Linked DNA regions of Homo sapiens. The protein of the gene in region 5 purifies or fractionates together with the protein of the main gene of each other region. This does not show direct contact. Each region holds a gene or a part of one and is shown on either strand. Other genes may lie near its edges.

Evidence for each region.
Region 1: the proteins of CTR9 (region 5) and G6PD purify together in Homo sapiens (affinity purification with mass spectrometry; one large-scale study listed by BioGRID and IntAct). This does not show direct contact.
Region 2: the proteins of CTR9 (region 5) and VSX1 purify together in Homo sapiens (co-immunoprecipitation; one large-scale study listed by IntAct). This does not show direct contact.
Region 3: the proteins of CTR9 (region 5) and CCNT1 purify together in Homo sapiens (co-immunoprecipitation; 2 studies listed by BioGRID and IntAct, with this or other methods). This does not show direct contact.
Region 4: the proteins of CTR9 (region 5) and URI1 purify together in Homo sapiens (co-immunoprecipitation; one study listed by IntAct). This does not show direct contact.
Region 6: the proteins of CTR9 (region 5) and ALDH3B1 purify together in Homo sapiens (affinity purification with mass spectrometry; one large-scale study listed by BioGRID and IntAct). This does not show direct contact.
Region 7: the proteins of CTR9 (region 5) and CHD1 fractionate together in Homo sapiens (co-fractionation; one large-scale study listed by BioGRID). This does not show direct contact.

The regions. Positions count from the first base shown.
Region 1 is NC_000023.11:154,540,347-154,543,846, forward strand, and holds part of G6PD (glucose-6-phosphate 1-dehydrogenase), read right to left. Parts: intron 2,107-3,500; coding exon of another isoform or gene 1,918-2,106; exon of another isoform or gene 1,866-1,917; intron 1,046-1,865; exon of another isoform or gene 892-1,045; intron 1-891. Other genes in the region: IKBKG (NF-kappa-B essential modulator), read left to right, coding at 1,918-2,106. UniProt on the Homo sapiens protein: Catalyzes the rate-limiting step of the oxidative pentose-phosphate pathway, which represents a route for the dissimilation of carbohydrates besides glycolysis.
Region 2 is NC_000020.11:25,074,963-25,079,141, forward strand, and holds the end of VSX1 (visual system homeobox 1), read right to left. Parts: intron 3,991-4,179; coding exon 3,867-3,990; coding exon of another isoform or gene 3,774-3,866; exon of another isoform or gene 3,581-3,773; intron 3,156-3,580; exon of another isoform or gene 2,904-3,155; coding exon 2,723-2,903; intron 1,589-2,722; coding exon 1,299-1,588; 3' UTR 501-1,298; downstream 1-500. UniProt on the Homo sapiens protein: Binds to the 37-bp core of the locus control region (LCR) of the red/green visual pigment gene cluster. May regulate the activity of the LCR and the cone opsin genes at earlier stages of development. Dispensable in early retinal development.
Region 3 is NC_000012.12:48,710,208-48,713,707, forward strand, and holds part of CCNT1 (cyclin-T1), read right to left. Parts: intron 2,370-3,500; exon of another isoform or gene 2,044-2,369; coding exon of another isoform or gene 2,041-2,043; intron 1-2,040. UniProt on the Homo sapiens protein: Regulatory subunit of the cyclin-dependent kinase pair (CDK9/cyclin-T1) complex, also called positive transcription elongation factor B (P-TEFb), which facilitates the transition from abortive to productive elongation by phosphorylating the CTD (C-terminal domain) of the large subunit of RNA polymerase II (RNA Pol II).
Region 4 is NC_000019.10:29,983,739-29,987,238, reverse strand, and holds part of URI1 (unconventional prefoldin RPB5 interactor 1), read right to left. Parts: intron 2,017-3,500; coding exon 1,938-2,016; intron 958-1,937; coding exon 822-957; intron 1-821. UniProt on the Homo sapiens protein: Involved in gene transcription regulation. Acts as a transcriptional repressor in concert with the corepressor UXT to regulate androgen receptor (AR) transcription.
Region 5 is NC_000011.10:10,777,746-10,780,246, reverse strand, and holds the end of CTR9 (RNA polymerase-associated protein CTR9 homolog), read right to left. Parts: intron 1,569-2,501; coding exon 1,142-1,568; 3' UTR 501-1,141; downstream 1-500. UniProt on the Homo sapiens protein: Component of the PAF1 complex (PAF1C) which has multiple functions during transcription by RNA polymerase II and is implicated in regulation of development and maintenance of embryonic stem cell pluripotency.
Region 6 is NC_000011.10:68,013,327-68,016,826, reverse strand, and holds part of ALDH3B1 (aldehyde dehydrogenase family 3 member B1), read right to left. Parts: intron 1,531-3,500; 5' UTR 1,530-1,530; coding exon 1,368-1,529; intron 1-1,367. UniProt on the Homo sapiens protein: Oxidizes medium and long chain saturated and unsaturated fatty aldehydes generated in the plasma membrane into non-toxic fatty acids. May have a protective role against the cytotoxicity induced by lipid peroxidation.
Region 7 is NC_000005.10:98,901,508-98,905,007, forward strand, and holds part of CHD1 (chromodomain-helicase-DNA-binding protein 1), read right to left. Parts: coding exon 3,390-3,500; intron 2,402-3,389; coding exon 2,285-2,401; intron 1,458-2,284; coding exon 1,393-1,457; intron 1-1,392. UniProt on the Homo sapiens protein: ATP-dependent chromatin-remodeling factor which functions as substrate recognition component of the transcription regulatory histone acetylation (HAT) complex SAGA. Regulates polymerase II transcription.

The DNA.
Region 1 (3,500 bases), on a different chromosome or scaffold from region 5:
TAGTCCCAGCTACTCGGGAGGCTGAGGCAGGGGAATTGCTTGAACCTCGCAGGTGGAGATTGCAGTGAGCCAAGATTGCGCCACTGTACTCCAGCCTGGTGAAAGAGCAAGACTCCATCTCAAAAAAAAGAAAAAACAAAAATTAGCTGGATGTGGTGGCAGGCACCTGGAATCCCAGCTACTCAGGAGGCTAAGGCAGGAGAATCACTTGAATCCAGGAGACGGAGGTTGCAGTGAGCCAAGATTGCGCCACCAAACTCCAGCCTGGGTGACAGCAAGACTCCATGTCACGAAAAAAAAAAAAAAAAAACACATGCTCTTCGAAGCAATCAGGCACTGCAACCATGGATGGGTCCATTTCTACAAACCATTACAGAATGGGGGCCATGCCACCAGGTCAAACGCCCTCACCCAGAGCCAGGCAGTTAGGAAGCCACCACAGGGCTTCCAGGAGGGCAACTGCTATGGTGTGGGTGCCTTGTGTGCTTGCGCTCTTCAGGGGCCCTGCTCCACTTCTGATGCTCCTCAGGTGAGCTCGGTGCCAGGACTACAGCGACACGGACCTCTCACTGCTGCACCCTTCAAAGTCCAGCAGACAACCCCTCGCCCTGGGGTAGGAGCTCCTCTACTCAGCTCCTCACAGCACCTGCCATCAGTGGGGCTGGGGAGGGGAACGTTGCCCATGTCACATCAACTCACGGCTGGCCCCACACAGAAAGGGTCAGCTTACTGGGAACTAACTGGACCCTGAAATAAACGGAAAGAACCACAGCCTGCAAATACCTCTAAGCCTCACTCAAAGCAGGTCATGTTTGCTCATGACCAAATTCCGGAAGACTGGGAGGCATCGGGACAGACTCCAGAAAGGTACTGGTGGCAGGGGACTGGTCTGCTGAGTCACAGCAACCCCACGCTCCAGGCCGTTTGTTCCTGCTGCTCCCTTTGGGATTAACTAGAGATTGAACCGGCTCACCTTGTTTCAGCTCAGGCCCTGCAACCGACCGACCGTCTGCTGGGCTCCAAGTCACCTGAGAGGCGAGGTGAGGTAAGACGGACAGTAGGGGTGGGGTAAGGCAGGCCGCTCTCTCCCATGGTGACAGGGAGCTAAGCTGAGCTGAGCCGGACTGAGCTGCTCTCCTCAGGACTCAGGGGTAGCCCTGCCCTCCCAGCTGGCTGCGATGCTCTAGTGGGACTTTCTGGAGGAACAAACATGGGAAGACATCGGGAAACCTGACAGCTTGGTCAAGAGTCTACTCGTGCCATGTGGGTGGGGGCAATTCAAGGGGTCCTTAGTGAAAAGCAGTTGGGAGCTTCTCATCTTCCCCACGCCCTCCTCTTTCCTGAGGACCACAGCAGGGGAGGGATCTGCCCAAGGACACAAGGTGACTTAGTAGAAGCAGGGCATGATGAAGATCTCTAGCCACCAACATCTGGCTAGGCCAGGGCAAAGGGACCTGGGCCATGACCTGTCTGTTTTATAAACCGAAATCGCTGCAGCCCTTGTCTTGGCATGAGGGTTTCATGGTAGAGCACGATGCCTGCTGGAGGGCCAGCGGGGGTGGGCCATCCCATCCCCAAGGGTCACTGGGGTTAAGGACCTGCCCAGACTCCCTGGGTGGAGCCCTGGGCCTTGGCAGGGGCCCAGCTGGTTCCTGGCCACTGGGGCCAGAGAACCTGGGGGCTGCTGAGTTAGTTCAGCTGAAAAACCAACAAAAGGGCCTCCCTGCTATACCCGGGGGCTCATGAGTCACCGGGGCTTTGGGGGAGTGCCAACATCATCATGACACAGCAAGAATCTTATCAGACCAATGGGGAAGTCAGCCCAGAAATGTTCTGAGGAAAGGGGAGGCGGGGGCCGCTGGGTCATCCCTCCCACAGGCCCATCATTGGGATGCGTCCTGAACGCCCATCAAGCCCATGGCCCTTGTGATCCAGGTGGGGAAACTAAGGCCCAGAGAAGTGAGGACCCCGCAGACTATCAATCCCAGTCTCTTCCCCTCACTCCCTGTGAAGCTCTCCAGCATCATCGAGGTCCCATCAGGTGGGGAAAGATGCTGTTCCAGGCGCACACTAGTCTACAAGGCCAGAGCTTTCTGGAAGGGGGCAGTAAGTACCTCGGCTCCCTTTCTGGTAGGGGTGGGAGTCCTGAGAAGGCAGGAAGTGGCCCACTTGGTAACTCTGAGGTGCCATCAGGGCCCCCAGGAAGGAAGCTGGGTGTGTGGGCAAGTGTGAGGTAAGCTGGCCAGGGAGGAGGAAGGGACAGAGGAAGGCCACGTGGGTCCAGCCTGCCCCAGGGTGTCCTGCTTGCCCAGGCTGTGGGTCTGCCAGCCACTTGCCTGCTTTCAGTTTCTAGGTCATGCTGAGCTTGTTCCCAACTCGGGGCTCCGGGCATTTGCTCTTCCTTCTGTGTTTGTGCTCTCCCGGCCCTCTTTGTGGGATCTATGCGCTTTGGGGGACTGGGGACACAGGGCCCATGTGTATCTTCTGAAACACACGTCAGCCTGAACTCTTGCTGGTCTGCTTACTTGCCGTGGTTCCCTGGCCGCAATAGCACATAGGTCCCATGAGGAGGGCAGGGACTGGCTGCTGTGGCCCAGAAGTACCCAATCGCTGTCTGCTCAATGAACGGAGAATGGGCTGCTTTCCTGGAACAGCAGATTCTAGGATCACGTGCCCTCAAGTGCCACCCTGCCTACCTCCCGCACCGAGTGAGGCATCAGGCGTGGAAGAAGCCTGGGAGCCGGAGCTGTTCCAGGTGCTGCCTGAGCACGCCACCTCCCATCTCCCCCACAGCAGGAAGAGGAAAAAACAAACCACGAGGCTCTTCAGAGAGAGGACCCCTTGTCCCCTACCCACAGTGCTGGAGCTGGCACTTCCTATTTCTGCTTTGAAAGCCTCAGGTTGTCACTCTCAGAACAGAGGAGAGCAAAGGGGAACCCTACTGATTTCAACAAAACAAAGTTGCCCAACCCGAAGCTGGCCACAGGCGGAGGCAGTGAAATGACAAAATCAGCTTGGAAAAGCCTAAGGACCCTGGGCCCTCGTTTCAAAAGCTGTCATTTGCTACACGAAATGCTGAGGTTCAGGAAAAGGAAGACACTTGCTCCAACTCACACAGCAAGCTTGGATGCTCTCAATGAGGTGTCTAATAAGAGCTGAAGGCCAGGAGTCATAAGCTATCATTGTGGCCTGGGTTGCTCTGTTGCAGTGCCTTGTGACAGCATGGGGTGGGGATGGAGAAAGCAACCTCAGTTACCTTCTCCTCCAGTCTGCTTCTTGGACTAAGGGTTTAACGGTCAGAGTCCTGGCTGTTAAGGTTTGTGGCTGATGCAGGTATGGCTCTTTTTATTTTTATTTTTTTGAGATGGAGTCTCACTCACTCCGTCACCCAGGATGGAGTGCAATGGTGCCATCTCAGCTCACTGCAACCTCCACCTCCTGGGTTCAAGCGATTTTCCTGCCTCAGCCTCCCAAGTAGCTGGGATTACAGATGGGTGCCA
Region 2 (4,179 bases), on a different chromosome or scaffold from region 5:
CTGTTAGCCAGAATTAATACAAGAACATAGGGCTTATCATTTTCTGTTGCTACAGAAAGGAACTGGTGATGTTTAATTTTCCCAAGAGTATGGAACTAACATAGGATGAGAAAAATAGGCCAAAGGGAGAGAGCTTCTGTTTTCTCACCTGCAGAGATGGGAGCACCAAGCCTAGCCTGACAGATCACTGGGCCAGTTCCCAGAGAAAGCCCTCACAATGAGCAGTTCCACACTTTCCTTGTACTGCCCTTCCTTCTTCAGGAAGCACCATATTTTCCCATCAACTAGAAGGTATCTTTCTGGCCTCTGAACTCCAAAGAGTGTATCAGACACAGCTGCTGCCCCAGAGGAGTTGACAAGGCAACACATGGTAAGAGCTGCAGCCTGAAGAATAAAACATGTCACATGTCCCCAGATTGAGAAGGGGTGAAGGGAGAGCCTGGCTGGGATCAGAGATAGTGGAGATGTACAAGTGTGTAATAGAGGAGTGCCTTGAAAAGTAAACACACCACAAAATGTTTATTTTTAAAGAATAAATAAATGGCAAAGGAAACGCAGGAAAGGAAAGATTTACAAAATCCAAGTCACTAAAGTGCTTTCAATCACAAATTTTGAAAGACCAAAAGCCTGGTCTGACCTAAAAACACTGTTTCCAGCTATCCAACAATTGTTTAAATATGATCCCATGCTATTTTTAAAGGAAATGCAGAAACGACTAGAGTATGGGTTTCTTTGAATTCCAATATGCATAGCCTATCAAGTGACACTCAAGAAAACACAAAATTACTCCCTAACAAGAAAATTGAAATATCCAAGGCCAAGTTCAAGGTAAAGACAATATAATTCATTCATGTGTCTGTATGGAGTCTTCACTATGATGATATCAGATTCTTCTGGATATTAAACAATTTTATATTTCCTAATTGAGAATGAGGACATCAGACCTAACCTATTCATCTATACAGTACATTGAACCACACATCTCAAATGATGCCCAGCAGTGAAATCATTTTTGAACTTCGGATCCTCCCTGCTCAAGCTACAAAAGAGAATCAAAAGTTTTGCACCAAGTTAACTGGTTAAAGTGCCATTAAGGAACCGTTTCCATTCTAGAATGAAATAGAATTTTCCCTAGGTCACTCATCTGTCCTCTTAAAGCAAGTGGCATTGCATTTTATCTTGACATTGTCAGAAGAAAATCAAACTGAGAGTATATGTCTTGGACAATTTTTGTCTTTTGGAAAATGCCAGTGAGGAATATGCACATTTTCAGCCTTTGACAGTGGGACCTGTGGGTCTCATGTGGCTCCCACCTTCCCTGGCTGGGGCCCCTCCAGTGCCGTGGAGTTGGAGCCTCCTTGAGCACCAGCCCCAGGGTGCACTTTCTTGGTCTCCTGCCGGGCAGAGCTGGAGAGGTCAATAGCCACATCTTCCAAGCCATTCTCAGGGCTCACTTTATCTGAGCCTCTCTGTGATCCTGACTCACTCTGGCTAGAACCTTCTTTGAAGTGGTCAGAGCCCCAGAGTCCTGCCAACTTATCTTCACTTCCTGGCTTCCTTATCATCCCCATGGATTTTTTATGCATCCCTTGTAAAAAAAAAAATAAAAAGGAAAAAATAAAAATAAAAATTTAAATTCAGCAATGAAGTAAATTTCCTTCTTATTGTTCTCTAAATCCCACTAGAATTGTCCTTGTCAGTGCCTATCTCTGGGGCCTACAGGAGAGGCAGGTAGGTAACTCCCACCTTAGGGGTTTAAAGCAGGTGTCTGACCCCGGGTCACATCCAGCAAAGGTGTTTAGGATGACACAGTGATTGGCATTGGGCCCACTTTCCCCTAGGCTGCGGTCTCGCAGATGCCAGTAAGTGCCCTCCCCCACCTGTTTGTGCAATTTCAGATGAGCCAGTTTGGGTCACTGCCTACAATGCTCCCTCTAGTGTTTCAGTCCTTGAGAGCAAAGTCAGGACATATCTATGATTGGAACCTCCAGTGCCCAGGATAGGGCTGCTTGGTAGCTGTTCAAAAACTGTTCGCTGAGCAAAAAACTTCCTCCATCTAAACCTAAAATGCCACCATGATCCTCCTAACTAATTACCCCGTGCCCGGAGGTACTCATCTGTGACTCATTCCCACAATCTGTGATCCCTGCCTGTTGGTTTCTGGCGACAGCAAACAGGGCAACAAGGGTGGAGCATCCTGAGAGTGCTGGGTCTCAGCAGCGGAGACTCTTTGAGCACCAAAAATCTAAGGGACAGAAAAGCCACTCGGCAGGTTGTTCATGGCAGAACCAAGCCCGGGGCCAGCCCTCCTGACTCAGATGGAGGGGCTCACTGTCCCCAGGGGTCGCTGCTCAGCACTGCCCTGTTTCCTATTACCAAGTGCCCTAAATTGTATGGTTTCTAAAAATTCTAACAGCATTCAACACTTGGATGCTGTTAATGCAATGATGTCATTTCACCCTTAAATCCCAAATACATATTTAGCATGCATAGCCCGGTGAGACTTCCACACAGCCTAGACAGTCTCTGTGAAAAATGAGGCAACCATCCAGTTGCTGCAAGCTTTGTTATTAATTAAAAATAATAAGAACGGTTCTGGACCTGAATCTCAGTAAACTGACGTTGCTTTGCTTTGGAAATGGCTGCCTCGGTGGGGACACCCTGGGATTCCCCCACCTCCTACAACACCTCGAGCCGTGCGATCCCGGGGGCCCTTCCTTACCCAGGAGCCAGGGCGCGCAGGAGCCCAGCAGGCCGCCCTCGGCGGAGTTGAGCACGGAGTCTGGCAGCGGGATGCAGTGGCGCACCATGGCCCCGTACAGCCCGTACTCGGCCATCACGCTGCTGCCGCCCCAGCGCTTCTCCCGCTTGCGCCATTTGGCCCTGCGGTTTTGAAACCAGACCTGGTTGGAGGCAGGAGAAGCAGAAGGCACACAGAAGAGACAGTGAAGAGGGGCGCCTGGAGGAGCGGAGGCGGCGTCCCAGGGCTCGGATCTTCTCTCCCGAGCATGATCCCATGCTATTTCTGAAGGAAATAGCTCCCGAGGGCCAACCAGCCGCCCTCAGGGAGAGCGCCCAGGAGCCCCCAGCAGCGCCCACGTGCGGTCCGGACTCACGGGCATTCAACGCAGTAGGGACACTTGTGACCACGTCCACTGAAGTTTCCATAGAGTCAGGAATGAAAAAAACTAAAGAATCAAACTCCCTTTTCCCACATTGTGTGAAGAGGTCAACTACAGTGTTTCCTGCTTTTTCTCATTAATTGGAATGAGCTCACTGGGGCACTGGCTCCTTCCGAGCTTAGGCTATTGGGTTGCTGGTGATATTTCTCATTAAAAACATTATGTTAATAAAGGACTATTATGAAATACGGTTTAGCTGTTAAAAAAAGAGTTAGTGACATATCTTCTGATAAAACCAAGAGGAAAATTCTATGTATGCATGTGAGTGTGTGTATATATGCATGTAGATATGTATATGCACATACATATTCAGGGGCAGATAATATACTCCACAAAGTAGAGAAAGGTCTCCTCAGGCATTTGTGTTGATTTCTTTCAGGGTTTGAGATGGAGAGGTAGTCTCTTTTTTTTTTTTTTCATTGACATATCTTTATAGTTTCTAGTTGCAGCACACATTATCATGTGATTTTAAAGAATGATTTGATACTAAATAATAATAAAATGAAAAAAGGCATGAGGGTCATAGGGGCAAGCTCTTGTGGTGCCTTCAGCTAAGGGACCCTCAGTTTCTATGCAAAGGGAGCGTGTTGGCTATAGAGAAGGGACTGCTGATTGGCTCACTGAATGTGGGAATGACACGTTCTCTGTGGTATCTTTGGAGCGGAGAAAAGGGACCCCAGACACCTGTATCCGGTCTTCGGGGAGCTCAGTTTTCACAGCCAGCATTTCTCGGGCATACACATCAGGGTAGTGGGCCTCGCTGAATGCCTTCTCCAACTCTTCCAGCTGGTGAGCAGTGAAAACTGTCCTGCAAGGACCCCAAAACACACAGGTGGGCACATGTCCCCTGGGGACAGCAGCCTCCCTGGCCTTAAGGACCACCGTGCCTGCTTCCTCTGCTGTCCAGACCCTAGAAGCCACTTCATGATAATGGAACACCCCACCTCTGAATGATTAGCTGATGTCCAGAAATTTGATTCAAACGAAAACAGTTCTT
Region 3 (3,500 bases), on a different chromosome or scaffold from region 5:
TAAGAAAAACACACACACACATACAAAAATGCCTGAGGACTTGACAGGATATATAACATATCAATGCCACATTGATTATTAGGCCACATTTAATGTATTAAGTCCTCTCACATTTAAATTTGGATTCATCACAGCTAAACTTAGAATTAGTATGTTAAAAGGTGATATTAAATCTGGAATCTGTTGATTCCAAAATGTGCCTAAAATCAATCCTCTAAAAAGGATCAACAACTTCAAATTAATCAGTGGATTTTGAAAAAGGTCATGACATCCAAAAGAATATCCCTATACTAGCCAGGTGCAGTGGCCCATGCCTGCAATCCCAGCACTTTGGGAGACTGAGGTGGGAAGACAGCTTGAGGCCAGGAGTTTGAGACCAGCCTGGGCAACAGAGCGAGATCTCCCGTCTCTAAAAAATAAATATATATAAAAATGTTTGAAAGAATATCTCTATATTGGATAACTACCAGATCATCCATTCATTCAATAAGTTTACTGAAACTGCTTTAGAGAATATACAGAAAAGGGAATCTCTGTCCTTGTTAAGCTTAACAGATAAGAAATAAAAAGATATGGCCTGGCACAGTGGCTCATGGCTATAATTCCAGCACTTGGTAGGCCAAGGCGGGTGGATCGTGAGGTCAGGAATTCAAGACCAGGCTGGCCAAGATGGTGAAACCCCGTCTCTACTAAAAATACAAAAATCAGCTGGGTGTGGTGGCAGGCGCCTGTAATCCCAGCTACTCGGGAGGCTGAGACAGGAGAATTGCTGGAACCCAGGAGGCGGAGGTTGCAGTGAGCTGAGATCGCGCAGCCACTGCACTCCAGCCTGGGGGAAAGAGAGAGATTCCAGGTCTCAAAAAAATAAAAAAAGATATAACTTAAAAGATAAGGCTGGACGCGGTGGCTCACACCTGTAATCCCAGCACTCTGGAAGGATGAGGCGGGCAGATCATAAGGTCAACAGTTGAAGCCAAGCCTGGCCAACATAGTGAAACCCTGTCTATACTAAAAATACAAAAATTAGCTGGGTGTGGTGGCGGGTGCCTGTAGTCCCAGCTACTTGGGAGGTTGAGACAGGAGAATCGCTTGAACCTGGGAGGTGGAGGTTGCAGTGAGCTCAGATGGCGCCATTGCACTCCAGCCTGGGTGACAGAGTGAGACTCCATCTCAAAAATAAATAAATAAATATATAAATAAATAAAAGTTAAAAGGAGGGGAAAATATATATTAACCTATACATGAAGAGTGGACAAACTGATTTGAGAGTTTCTTTTTTTGATTTGAGATTCACTTCACCCCAAATTTCAAGTCTTTATCATAATAAAAGGGAAGAATTATAGAAAACCTTCAGAACTGGCAAAATGGCTAGGAATTTCCTCTTCAAATTTCACTTTTTAACTACTCACTACCTTCTATTCTGGTGCTATCAGATAGCCTCGTTAAATGCTAACAGGCTTCTCTCTCTTTTAATAAGAAGGATATACTCCTTGCAATCAGAGCCAGAGCAAAGCTCCAGGGCATGACTAGAGGTACAGGGGCTAAGGGCAGAAGAAAGCCAACCTGGGTGGATCATCAGCAAAAATCTTTTTCTTTTTGTTTTGAGACGGAGTCTCATTCTGTCGCCCAGGCTGGAGTGCAGTGGCACGATCTCGGCTCACTGCAAGCTCCACCTCCTGGGTTCATGCCATTCTCCTGTCTCAGCCTCCCGAGTAGCTGGGACTACAGGCGCCCACCGCCACGCCCGGCTAATTTTTTTTGTATTTTTAGTAGAGACGGGGTTTCACCATGTTAGCCAGGATGGTCTTGATCTGCTGACCTCGTGATCCGCCCATCTTGGCCTCCCAAAGTGCTGGGATTACAGGCGTTGAGCCACGGCACCTGGCCCACAAAAATCTTAATTCACAAATCCAAAAAGTTTCCTGTGCAGTTACTCCCAATACTGTTTCTGCCAGTTTCTTACATTTCAGGAGCTATGTCTAGCTTCATAAACTCTCTTTCTACAGCATTAAAAAAGTAATAATAAATCTGAAAACCCACCATTCTAAGGATACGAAATAAGCATCCTCAAAAGCATAATCTTTTTCTTTTTGAGATGGAGTTTCGCTCTTGTTGCCTAGGCTGAAGTGCAATAGCGATCTCGGCTCACCACAACCTCGGCCTCCCCAGTTCAAGTGATTGCCTCAGCCTCCTGAGTAGCTGGGATTACAGGCATGAAACTCCACGCCTGGCTAATTTTTGTATTAGTAGAGATGGGGTTTCTCCATGTTGGTCTCAAACTCCCGACCTCAGGTGATCCGCCCGCCTCAGCCTCCTAAAGTTGTGGGATTATAGGCTTAAGCCACCGTGCCCAGCAGGATAATCTTTTCCTTAAAAAAAAAAAAAAATAAAAAAAAAAAAAAAAAAAAAAAGCAGGGAAATACTTGACTCACAAATCCATTTGAAGTATACAGCCGGTGCAGTGGCTCACACCTGTAATCCCAACACTTTGGGAGGCTGAGGCGGGCAGATCACCTGAGGTCAGGAGTTCAAAACCAGCCTGGCCAACGTGGTGAAACCTCGTCTCTACTAAAAATACAAAAATTAGCCAGGTGTGGTGGCACATGCATGTAATCCCAGCTACTTGGGAGGCTGAGGAAAGAGGATTGCTTGAATCTGCGAGGCGGAGGTTGCAAAGGGCCAAGATCGTGCCATTGCACTCCATCCTGGGCAACAAGAGCGAAACTCCATCTCAAAAAAAAAAAAATCAATCCATATGAAGTACTCATCAAGTTTATCCCTATTACCTTGGCGTTTTATTAAGTAAATACAGTCCTTCCTAGAACTGGGATATCACTATGCATTCAATTCCAAGTCATTTATAATAATGTTAAATAGGACCATTTCAAATAGCTACACTGAAAAGATCACTATTTATAATTCTGTACAAAAAAATAAAATTTCTTTATTAGTATAATTTTATTCTTCCTGTTCTTTGTAAAATTTTTTTTACCTTTTTTTTTTTTTTTGTAGAAACGGGGTCTCACCGTGTTGCCCAGGCTGGTCTCCAACTCCTGGGCTCAATCAGTCCTCCCACCTGAACCTCCCAAGGTGCTGTGATTATACATAAGAATGAGCCACCATGCATAGCCTATTTTTCATGTTCTTAAAAGTCATTTTCCCAGTTATTATTACATAATGTGCTTTCCCCTCCAACTGCTGACTGGAATTTTATCAAAGGCTTTTGGAAAATCTAAGTAACTTACATTTACTTCTTTTGCTGTGACCATATTTTATAAACTACTTCAAAATTAATGCCAGGAATGGCGGCTCATGACTGTAATCCCAACATTTTAGAAGGCGGAGGCGGAAGGATCCCTTGAACCCTGGAGTTTGAGACCAGGCTGGACAACACAGGGAGACCCCATCTTCACAAAAAAAATTTTAAAAATTACCAGATATGTTGGCAAGCCTGTGGTCCCAGTTACTTGGGAGGCTACGGCAGGAGGACTGCTTGAGCC
Region 4 (3,500 bases), on a different chromosome or scaffold from region 5:
TCCCATCATTTATTTTCAAATACACATTTAACTAAAAGGTTAAAAAGCAGGTAGGGCGGATATTATACTCTCAATCTAAATACGTATTACAGAAATAACAACAGATTATAAACTGAACCTAATTTTAAAATATAACTAAGCTAGAACCCAAGCTAGCTCATCCAACTGCAAAATGTGTAGTGTGTGTTGTGTGTGTGTATGTAGGCTTCTATACACCTACAGATAATAGCACGGATAAACAAAACTCAAGAGCTGCCCTAATAAAGGGATGCAGAGAACTCAAACAACTGAAAAAGGATAAGGGTGCTGTTTTAGGTAGCACCTTTTCACACCTGGTCTCCTCTATCAAATGAAAATATGGTTTTTTTTCCAAACCAAAAAGCATTTTTAAGAATTGTCTACTTATGTAAACAGGTATTTCTCTTAGTTCACTAAGGAGAAAACACATTATTTCTGTGTACTAAAGTATTAAGTGCAAAAATAAGTCTATAATAGCAACTAAAAAAAAATTATAAGGTATAAAATGACTCCAATTTTTATGTCTTCCCAACTTCTAACTACAAAATCACATAATGACTTTGAAACTTTGTAACTTCTGAAAACATGCCAATGTAGGTGACATTTCCAACCCGGATGCTCCATTCTCCAGCTCATTCTCAAATGTTGGTTCTACTCAAACTACCTACAATTCAACAGAATCACAAACAGCCTGGATTCATAGATCACGGAAGGTACTTTTGGTAAGAAACAGCCCTTCAGCTTGGCAATCTGTGAATGGATACATATACAACAAAGAAACATCATTTAAAATGGGTACCTACGTTCTTTCCGGTGCTCAACTAAACCTACAGCCTGCTTTGCTGAGCACTTTGCAAACCAGTTGTCCCCCAGTAAAACAGTGACTTCATTAGTATGGACAAGTTTTCCTGGCATGAAGGCAAAAGGGCCAAATGGTACCTATTGTTTAAAAAAAAAGAAAAAAGGGAAAAAACATAAAACACTGAAAAGTACATTTTATAAAACACTTCGCATTAAAAGCCTTACATAACTGAATTTTTTTATTTATACATTGGGAAAAATAAAATGCCAGCTTCACAGAAATTCAACACTATATTAAAATTTTACTAGGAAAATCTAAAGAAAATTGCTTTATGTTCATAAATCAATGTTAAAACAGGAAAATAAATCCACACCATATTTACATATAGCTCTTAAAGAAAGTAGTACTGTCTCGGCATGTTTATACTTTTCATTCACTTGCAAATCTAAGTGAAAGCAACTAGTAGTGAAACATTGTCAATGCAAAATACTTTTGATAAAGAAAACTAAAAATTATTTTCAATAAAGTAGACACTTTTGCAAAGCAGGAATTAGTAAACAAATAGCTTTAATGGATCTATCTAGCTATATATACAAAATACTTGGACTAGTATAAAAGAACAAAGTCTTCATAAGAAAGAACATTCATGCAATGAAAGGCTCTAATCCAGGGCTCATGAACAGATCACTATGTCGATGTGAAGATCATTAAAACAAAAATTAGCAGCACGTTTTTATATAAAAATCAATGTCCTAAGGTTTAATTCTGTGAATTACAAAACATTATGGCCTATTCCTGCTCTGGCTAACAAGAAACGACTTAGTACCATATTTCTGTCATAATTACATTTTTTATATAGTAAGTTTCCATTTGAAATATGTCCAATTTTGTGCTAATATTTATGTCATTTGTGTCACCATATATATTCTGAAAAAAAAAGGTAAATACCAACAATTACTACAATTACTGTGTTCTTATAAAGTAAAACAAAACAAATCTTCCTTGCTACATAGTTACCTTGGACACAGTCCATCAGCCTGACATTCTGTGAACCGACACATAGTTAATATGTTTACAAGAAACAACTATTACTTTAAAAGAAACACACCAAACATACCATTATATTATAAGACAATTTATCAGGCAAGGTGCTGAGTCTTTCTCGAAGGGCATTATAGTCATTATCTACCTTCTTCCTGTTGACAGAAAACACCAAATACACACATTATTAACGATTTTTCTTTTTTTTTTTTTTTTTTTTTTTTTTTTTTTTTTTTTTTTTTTTTTTTTTTTTTTTTTGAGACAGAGTGTCGCTCCGTCGCCCAGGCTAAAGTGCAGTGGCGTGATCTCGGCTCACTGCACCCTCCACCTCCCGGGTTCAAGCAATTCTCCTGCCTCAGCCTCCTGAGTAGCTGGGATTACAAGTGTGCGCCACCATGCAAGGCTAGTTTTTGTATTTTCAGTAGAGAGGAGGTTTCACCATGTTGGTCAGGCTGGTCTTGAACTCCTGACCTCATGATCCTCCCACTTCAGCCTCCTGAAGTGCTAGAGTTACAGGCGTGAGCCACTGCACCTGGCCTCACTCAAAAGCTTTATTAAATCTCTTCTTTCAGTCGTGTGTGGTGGCTCACGCCTGTAATCCCAGCAATTTGGGAGGCCCAGTAGGCCAGGTATCATAAAACAAGCTAATCAAAAACATAATTTTAGCAAATTCAAGATTAATGTGGTTTTATTTTTAGTTTTAAAATCCTGTTTTTATACAGTTTAGCAATGGCATTATTCTACCATACATTTATTGAAGAATTAAGACTCTTCAGGGACTCTGGCATTTAGAAGCAGAATACTCAAATTTTGAGAATTACTGTTTTTTAAGATACAAGACTATCTGGACCAAATAAAATGTGAAAATTAAGGGAGACAGTAAAAGAGGGCCTGATATTTGGAGAGAAGAAGGGACTCAAGATGAAAAAAGAAGAGATTTATTTATTTTAAGACAGAGTCTCTCTCTGTTGCCCAGGCTGGAGTGCAGTGGCACAATCTCAGCTCACTGCAACCTCCACCTCCTGGGTTCAAGTGATTCCCCTGCCTTAGCCTCCTGAGTAGCTGAGACTACAGACGCATGACACCACGCCCAGCTAATTTTTGTATCTTCCATAGAGATTAGGTTTCTTCGCCACGTTGGCCAGGCTGGTCTCGAACTCCTGGCTTCAAGCGATCCCCCCACCGCAGCCTCCCAAAGTGCTGGGATTACAGGCATGAGCCACCACACCCGGCCGAAAGAAGAGATTTAATAAAGCTTTTGAGTGAATAGATACTGGCTGTGAAGTTGAAATCATGAACATGAAATTTGATCAGATGCTTTAGTCCTCATCAGAAAACCTTAGGCTGAAAAATGCATCATCAGCTCTTCAATTATTCATAATAATGTGATTAAGGTAAGAGAGAATCAACTGGGGGTAGAAGAAATTAAGTAGAGATAATACAAAAGGCGTTTCAATTTGGCCTAGGAGTCTGTTTCTTGTTACATCAAACAGAGCTACCAAATAAGTAATTTCAAACAACCAAAAGGTATATGTAACTCTGTAGGGGCAGAGATGATCGTATTTCCATGCTATGGGCCTTACTCAGCTCTTAACACCTGCTGGAAATGAACAGCCCTTCTTTTTGAGTAATACCAGGC
Region 5 (2,501 bases):
ATCCTGAGGTATAGGCAGGAGCCCTGGCTCAGGCTGAGTCATCTCAGGACTCCTGTCCTTCAAGAAACCTTGTCTTCACTGCTTCTTCCAACCTCCTTTTTGCTCCCACAACCTGTGCAAACATCATCACCCTATTTCTCACACCACAGGAACAACAAATTTATCTTTACTCAATTTTTGAAGACAAGAAGGGAACTTTATCTCTGCATTCTCACCTCAATGGCTAATATAGCACATTTAATAATACTTGTTGACTACAATAATTAAAGCTCTTACAAACCACTACATAAAAATATTAGTGTTAATTACTGAATTACTGAAAATAAAAATACATGCTGGTACCTTAGTTTTCTTGCATCTTTAAAATAAACACTCCACGAATCTGTAAGAATTATAAAAGTCTTGAGGCTTAATGTAGGATTTTTCAAATATTTGCATAATTTATGCTACACTGCCATGCACAAATATATCGAACAAAAAAAGACACGAAGTTACCCATAAAAGTTGGTAAAAGAATTTTATTATTATGTGGCTTAGGTAGGTTTTTGCATTCTACTAACAGAAAAGCATTTTCCACACCTTATTCAACCTAACACATTATACATTTGTGATTTTATCTACATCGCTGCAGTATTACACTATTGAAAACCTTCCTTTCAAATGTACTTTGGTGCAATTATACAGTAGATATCTCTGCCTTCAGAAAATAAAAATATTCTCAATCTAAACTCAAAATGGAATAAAGACATCAATACCAAGTTTGTGCACCACTTGGTAAAAGATTGCAATAAAAATCAGAAGAGTATGCTGCTTAACATATAAAGAAGATGAGACATCTGCCACAGTTTCAGTCAAACCTTTGTAGGAATGATTTAGCATCTGGGTTTATTTTTACTGCAGTTTTCACATATGATAGGTGGAATTGTACCACAAAGAATAGTCTCATTTGCACGAGAGACTCAAATATTGGACTCTAGCACAGGAAATGTCTCTTGGGGCTTAGTAATATACAAACTGATAGAAAAGAAAATTGCCTTAAGAAAAATTTCACAATTGACTAAACATCTGAAACATTTTTATCACAGCTTTCATATATTAAAAAAGTTTCCTCCAGAGATGAAGCTTATTGATGAAATAAAACCTAGTCACTATCATCTGACCCATGTTCTGAGCCTCTATCTGAGGCCTCATTGTTGGATCCCTCTGGTTCCGATTCATTTCCAGAGCCTTGGCCAGAACCCTCATTATCAGATCCTCTCTCCGATTCGTGATCTGATTCGGCACTTGGAGAAGCTGGGCGAGAGTCGTTCTCAGAAACTCCTGAGTGGCTTCTCCCTGACTGCACAGATTCATTGTCAGACTGCTCAGAACCGGAGGGCCTTCTCTTTCTGGATGGCTGGTCACTGTCTGAGTCCTGATCTGACCGCTGTCTTCGTGGCCTCCGGGGACTGCCGGCCTCGCTGCCAGACTTGTTCTGGTTCTCATCGGAATCACTCTCTGATGAGGCACATTTCTTTCGTTGTTCGTCCTCGTCTGAGTCACTGTTGCTGTTGCTGTTCCTGGGATGTCTGGCAAAGATGATCATTGGTTAGAAGCTGAGGATTCTGGCTAACTGGGGCCTTGATGAGCAGACAATGTGCTTTTAAAACAGAAGGGCATTTAATATTCTATTTCTTGACCTAAATAGTGGTTACACAGGTATCATTCTGTGATACTTGTTTTGTGTACTATTCTGTAAATGTGATATATTTCACAACTCAAAAAGGTTTAAAAAGGAAAAAAAGATAAGGCACTTTAGCTATAAGTCAAAATATAAACAGGGATGGTGACTCACTGGACACTTTTCATCAGAATGAAGCATTTCCCAATTTCATATATAAAATTATGAAAAGGAAGGGATACATTTGTTTATCTCTGTACACAAATTAACAGCAACAAAGGTGAAATCCAGGATCTCAACTGGCTTGAAGACTTTGAAGAATTAACCCTTTTCCAAAGGCAGAAAAGGGTTTCAAAGGACATTTCCCTGTCCTATTGCCATCGGTGCTAACAGGTACCTGAAGAGTGAGGTCATTATTCCTGTCCTAAGATTTGCTACTGCACTAGGTCCCCTCCACCATGACCAGACTTGCTCAAGATAGGGAACTGGGGCTAAAGGGGCCCTTTGGTTTATTTCCCTTTGCTCCCAAGCTCTCCCCTCTACTTGTCAGTTGATAAGTGAAAGGAAAGGGGAAGTCATGCTTATGCTTAGAATGGTGGCAGCACCCTCAGAGTCTTGGCTTCCTGGAGGCTCTGAGGAAAGAACATTCCCTTAACCACGGTGACCGCTCCTTTGGAGCAGGCACACTTCTCTGGCACGTTCCTTAGTTCTGGTTTTCATGACAGATATTCCAATAAAGGAATACTGAATCCCACAGAGTTCGGTCTAGGAACGGTGAGGGAGGTGAAATATATTACTCTCTTTCTGTATACATATTAAAGACCTGTGGGTCTTCCCTGGG
Region 6 (3,500 bases), about 57 Mb from region 5:
TCATGAAGGCCGGCAGGCGGCCGGTGGCAGAAGCTCAGTGGTGGCGGGGGAGTCAGTCCCCAGGGAGCCCAATGGGCTGGGGGAAGGTCTGAACACTACAGCCTTCAAGGCAAAGGGAGGAGATATTTTGTCCAGAGAATAGGAGCCGGGGGCAGCCCCTGGGGCAGATGTGCTGAGGCAGGGGCAGGTGGTGTCCTGAGGCAGGGGCAGGTGTCCTGAGGCAGGGGCAGGCAGGTGCATGGGCCCTGATGGGTGAGGGGTTGGGGGAAGTGTGTTTCTTGGGGTTCTGCCTTGGCTGCCACTGGGATTGGGAGGGGCTGAGGCCCCAAGCCTTCAGGGTCTAGACAGAGGCCATGATGCCTGCTGTACCCAGAGAGAAGGCCAAGGCCTCACGGCCTCCGAGGCCCTACATAGTGTGGCCCATACCCCAGACCTCATCTTTGCTGTTTCTTCCTCTCCCACCCCCGACAGCTATGCTGGCCTCCTTGCTGCTCCTCAAGCAGAAACACCCAGCACCTCCTGCCTCAGGGCCTTTGCACGTGCTGTGCCCGCTGCCATCTCCCCAGCATCCATGGGGAGCCTCCCCTCCATCTTCACGTCTCTGCTCTAAAGCCCCCTTCTCAGAGAAACCTTCCCTGACCCCCACATATACAACAGCACCCTGATCCTGGCCCCCTCTCTCCCCTTCACCCTGGGTGTGTCTCCAGGGCACATATTTCAACCCAATATGCTGTGTAATTATTATCTTTATTATTATTTTTGAGATGGAGTCTCACTGTGTTGCCCAAGCTGGAGTGCAGTGGTGTGACCTTGGCTCACTGCAACCTCCACCTCCCAGGTTCAAGCGATTCTCATGCCTCAGCCTCCTGAGTAGCTGGGATTACAGGTGCCCACCACCACATCCAGCTAATTTTTGTATTGTTAGTAGAGACGGGGTTTCGCCATGTTGGCCAGGATGGTCTTGAACTCCTGGCCTCAAGCGATCCGCCCACCTCGGCCTCCCAAAGTGCTGGGACTACAGGTGTGAGCCACCATGCCCGGCCTTGCTGTGCAATTATTTATTTGCTGTTTTATTGTCTCCGATAGAAGGTCATCTTCGTAGGCATGGGAACTGTGTTTTATTCTCTGCTATATCCCCAGAGCCTAGAACAGTACCTGGCACATAGTAGGTGCTCAGCAAATAGTTGCTGCATGAATACAGAAATAAGTGACTGGATGAATGTGCAAGGGTGGCTCTGGCCTAGGGGAGGAGCTGCTTTTAGCCCCGCTTCATGGAGGGCGCAGGTGTCTTCATCCCCTGCTGTCCCAGCTGCCCTCCATGCCCCCCTGCCCCAGTGCACCCTCTCATACCCCCAACCCCAGCCCACCTTGTGCAGGTCCTGGGCCAGTGCGTCGTGCAGAAGCTGCTTGTTTTCTTGCAGGAAGCGGCCCAGGCCTTGGAGCTGCGCAGCCCGGAACTCAGCTGGCCGCGTGCGCCCCGCGTGGAAGGCCTCCCGCAGTCGCCGCAGCGTGTCCCCAAGGGGGTCCATCCTGCCAGATGGGGTGGCATGAACTGGGTGGCCAGGGCTGCCCCTCCTTCATGGGCACCACCCAGCCGCCCCAGGGTCTGGGCACCCCTGACCTGCCTGCACCCACAGGGGCTTGCAGACACCTCTACCTTATACACACACAGGGACCCACTCAGATGACCCCACAGGGACTGAGGCTGCCTGCAACCCCTTTCACCCAACAGTGAGCACTCCCAGACACACATGAAGACCCTCGCACCACTCCCCTCTGCCATGGACCTGGAGGCGGCTGCAGGACTGGGTGTGGGCTTGGGGACAGCTGCTCCACCACAGCCCCCGAGGGTGAGCAGGCAGGCAGAGCGCCATGCTTCTTCCTGCCGCACAGAAATTAACCCCAAGCCATGGCCTCTGCCCTGCCCTGATGCCCCTCCTGGAGGCGGGGCAGCCTCACCCCTGCCAGTCTGAATGGTGTAAGCAGGAGCTTGATGAGTAGAGGGGGTGACTCACTGCCACCATGGCCACCACCTTGGAGCACTCCAGACACAGAATTCTCCGTCTTCCTCTGTCCCCAGCCTGGGGGCACTGCCCAGGGAGGCCAGGCCAGTGGGCAATAGCCTCTTCTCCCTGTGCCTCAGCTTCCTCAGGAAGAGGGGGAGAACACCTCGGGCCTCCTGGAGGCCCTGCTGCCCACCCTGCCGGGGCTGTGGTGCTGGGAGGCAGAAACAGCTGTGGGGGAGAGGATCAGGGCGGGGGAGAGGGCGTTCCTGCCTCCGTGCTGGTGCCAGCCAGAGCTGGCAGGCAGGGTAGGGGCCTAGACATTCCCCCGAGCCCTGCCTGTTTACTTGAAGTTCATCGGAGGAGCACTCTGACGCACTCGTTCCTCGGCCTGGTGCCAAGGACCCGTGGTGACCCTTTCCTCCTTCCCTCTCCGAGTCCCTTTCCTCCAGATCTCAGCTTGGCTGATGCTTCCTCCAGGCAGCCCACCCAGATTATGCCCTCATCCACTGTCACAGTGGCCCCTTGACTCTGCTCCCCAGCGTTCTGAGTTGTGCCATGTGATAAATGTCTGGTTACACTCTACCCACCTCCCAACCCTGTCCACATCTCCCTTATTTCCCCCTCATTAGACTGGGAGGCAGGCCCCTCTGTGCCTACTTATTTGAGACCTAGTGCTTGAAGCCTCTCATGTTACCGGTGTAATGATGGCACCTGCCAGCTAATGATGAGACCACACAGTCGGTTCTGAGCCCAGGGCCCAGCATCGGTGAGCGCAAGGCTGTGGGTGATTGTTAAGTGGCCACCTTGAGGGCGGGACCTGCTCCGGTCTGCAGGATGGCCCTGCTGGACCAGTGTGCTACTGAGAGCCTGGTCAGGAGCCCCAGGCCAGCCCTCAGCTGGAGTGATTGTGGGGCCAGGCTGAACCCACCATCTTCCTGCTCTGATTGGGAGAAGCTGGGCAGTGGCCCGCACACAGGACAGGCACCATGGTCCCCATAGGGGATGGCTCGTCACGGGAGCAGGACTGAGACCCAGGAGCCAAGAACGAGCCTCTCGAGCCACCATCAGGCCTGTCTCCGGGCTCTGCCTCTTACTGGTTGTGGGACCTTGGGCAAATCACTCACCTTCTCTGCCTCGGTTTCCTCATCTGTGAAATGGGGATGCTAATGGCACCTGGTGTCATTGTGAGGATTAAATGACATCACGCTGCATAAAACATTTGCTGTTGTGCCCACAGAAAGTACTCGACAAAGGTCAGCTCTGGGTGTTTTGCTAAGTAGCCTGCAAATATTTATCTCCCTCAACTCCGCACTCTCCTGGGTCCTTCTCCATTCTACTCTCACCTTCAGACTTCTGCCAGTGGTCAAAGGCAAACCACGCCTGTGCCTCTCTCACCCTTTGTAAGAATCTCTGCAGAAACCACAAAAATGCAAGGCACGTAACGTGAATGGTGGACTGTGGGCCGGGAGCTCTGTGGGGGATGGAGTTCTGCAG
Region 7 (3,500 bases), on a different chromosome or scaffold from region 5:
CATAGACTTCTCTCACAACTCTAGTTTTGCTAATCACTTAGTTATACGTCAGTGAACAGCAAATAAATGATATTTTAATTTTCATTATAGATGAAAATCTCATAAAATTATTCTACTTGCCCTCTCAAAAAAGAGATACTAATCCATGCCATTTTAATCCTCGAGAGGTTGTGATTTTGAAAAACACCTGTTTAAACTGATTTTTTAAATAGTGCACGTTCATTAAGAAACATAGAAAAATTAAAAAAAAAAAAAAGAGCAACAGTAGTACCATCTCAAATATTCAATCTGAGTACCTTACCTGTATTATTATTTTTAGTCTATTAAGTCTATTTCATTCCAATCAACATGTAGAGAAAAATAATGGATGTTAATATTTTGCTATCATAAGAAGTTCAAATGAAAGGCACACATTGAATTCTTACAAATACACTATATCCTATTTCAGCTATGCTTCTGCTTCATTGCTCTGTATCTTTTGCACCAATTGTAACTATGATGAAGGCTACATAAACAAGCATATATGATAAAATCTGCTTATGATAAAAACATAGTAGAAGCAAATTTTTTACTTTGAGATCTTTTCAGGGCTTGCACACCGAAAAAAAGTTTCCGTTGTGTATTTTTATAATGGAAAAAAAACTGGATGATCCAATATACATCTATTAATAGGAGGACCAGAGAGATTTGTAGAAAGAGAAAGGAAAAAAAATCCAAAGATAAATGATTGAATTTTCAGAATAAAAGATAGAACAGACTAATAAAAGATACAAATCTTCGCATTAAAAATGCATGAATCTTTTTTTGGGAAAAATAAGTAACAAATCTAATATGCAGAATATCAAAGGCAAATAGGAAAATAAAAGACAAGAAAATGGAATAATGTTTCCAAATCATTAAAATAAACATGGATTGAGAATCTGAAGTATTCTTAATACTTTCTGGGTCCAGATCTTTAGGAAATTACAGTGAGTTTCTAAAATGAGTTCTACGGTATGAAGTAAATTTCACATGCAACTGAATAGTAAGGATAGCTATTAATATAATTATAAGAACCATCCAAAATCAGTCATCCTGTCATCCCTATACTCCTATATTCCCAAGTTATTAAGATTTTCTGATATTACAACTAGGGAGATCATTAAAGTTTAAAAATATATAGGGGGAGTTACAGGAGATAAAGAAATGGCATAATACCCTCAGGTGGTCACAGAAAGATAAATGTTAAAGATTTATCTTTAAATTGTGTAATGGTGTAAATTAACTTCATAAAATGCCATGAACTAAGAATTTAGAAGAGTCTCCTTTTGGCAACAATTTTCATAAAGAAAGAAATATGAAATAATCAGGATTTTTCTAAAATGAAGTAGTCAGTTGAACAAAATGACATACTCTTTATGCTTTTTCCTTTTGACCTCACTTGATGAGTCATCGGAATCTTCACTGCTAGAGGAATCCTGTAGAAAAGAAATAAAGTCAGTATCATCCACTAATGATTAGAATTTAACCATATTAAATTTTTATTTGCTATACTATTTAACATTCACTTTACAAATAACAGCACTTGTGAAGCCTTTTTTCAATGTAGTTTTATTTATGTTAACTAGCTGAAAGTAATAACATTTTTATTGCAAATTAATATAGCCAGTGAAATTAAGTAAATAGCAAAATGTCAGCACTTTGTATGAAACCTTAAAATCTACCCTCACTGGAGACCATTATTGTTGCCTAGTATAGCCAAAACAAGAAATCCTAGGTGCCAACATGCCAAATTTTGAATTTTTTCTTCACCATTACTTTTTGTTATAATTTTTCCTGAATGTTTTTGTGCAAACATACATGTATGCATGCTTGCACACACACACAAACTACATTGTGTATAGTGGCCATCTACTCTTTCAAAAATATTATGTTGAGATTTCTGTTATTATTTCGTACAAATATGATTTAATGATATAATATTCCTTCATTCATACATGTATATGCGTGTAGGTGCATATCACATTTAATTATTTCCCACAGAGTTCACATTTAGTTTATTTCTAATTTTGCTGTAATGAGCAAATGCACACAAATGTCCCACTGCTTATTTTGGATTAATCCCTAAAATTGGAATTACTGGATAATGCAAAATCTGTATTTCAAGATTCTTGATATATACACTTAAAGTATTTCCTACTTATTCTTTCAAAGCACTTATTATTTTTAATAATTTCACAAATACTAGTTAACTGATTCAGCAGCATGTCCACTTTTAAAATAATAGCTCATGATGAAAATGCACCTCTTCTGATCCGCTATTAGATGAGGCTTGATGTTGTTGTTGCTGCTGCTGCTGTTGCTGCTTCTTGAGGATTGCAGATCTCTGAACGGCCAGAATACTAGGACTAGATTTCCAAAACTATAATAGAAATATAAACCAGTGAATGAAGAAGTATTAAGAAAACTGCAAAAAAAGGTTAATTTATTGAAAAACTATACCACCATCTTTACTGCCTCAAAGTAATAAAGACTATATTCCTTACCTATATGTAACACAATTATCATTGCAATATAGTTAAATAAAATGCTGAGCTCTAGTTATGTATAAAAAAAAATGGTGTGTTGAGTTCCACAGACAATATTAATCAATATCCTCTTGATGCTAAGAGTATTATTTGTATTAGTGCTACTCATAGTGTGGTTACCTATTTTATCAGTGTGAGGTGAAGAGGCTGAGTCAGAATATACGTCAACGATGTCACTAGGCACATTGTTTTAGCTCAGATTTGAGCGGGGGGCCGGTAGCAACATTTTTCTCTATGAAGGAATCTGTGTGTCGATTTATATTCTGGCCCTCAAGCATCTTATCTCATCACAGACTGGTACTCTGAGTAACACTGTATACTACCACGAAGTATAGACAAGTTTTTGTATCTCTTGTAGTTTTTTCCAAACAGAATAGCCCCTTACCCTATTCCATCATTATCTTTGAGGAATCTGAGTTCCATTAAATTATTCTGCTAGTAGCAATAAAGTATCTCCTTTGAAGCTCTTGAAAGTAGAGATCATAACACGGTAAGGTTAACAAGTAGACCTCACAATGTCTTAAATTTGTATCTATGACACAATGGATATTTATGAAACTCAATTTCTGCCTAAGAGGCAGAAAACGTTTTATTTGCCTGTGTGTAATTTACACTTTGTGTTTTCTAGTTCGAAAATGCATCTATTCCAAGCCAATTAGTCCACAGGTGTACCACCATGAATGTGAGAATCACTAAAAGTAAATTTTAATTTAAAATGTTGTCTTCTCTAAAAGCTAGATTAAGAATGGTATAAACCAATCCTCTAAATTTTCCCAAAGTAATACAAGCAATCTACCTTTCATTGGGTATTTTATTGATTACCTCAGCTCCATCAACTTTCGGTGGTTTTGCTTGAACTTTGTTTTCTCGGGAAGTGTCTGACTCAGACTCTGACTGACTGCCTGATTCAGATCCGGAGTCAGAGTCACTGCT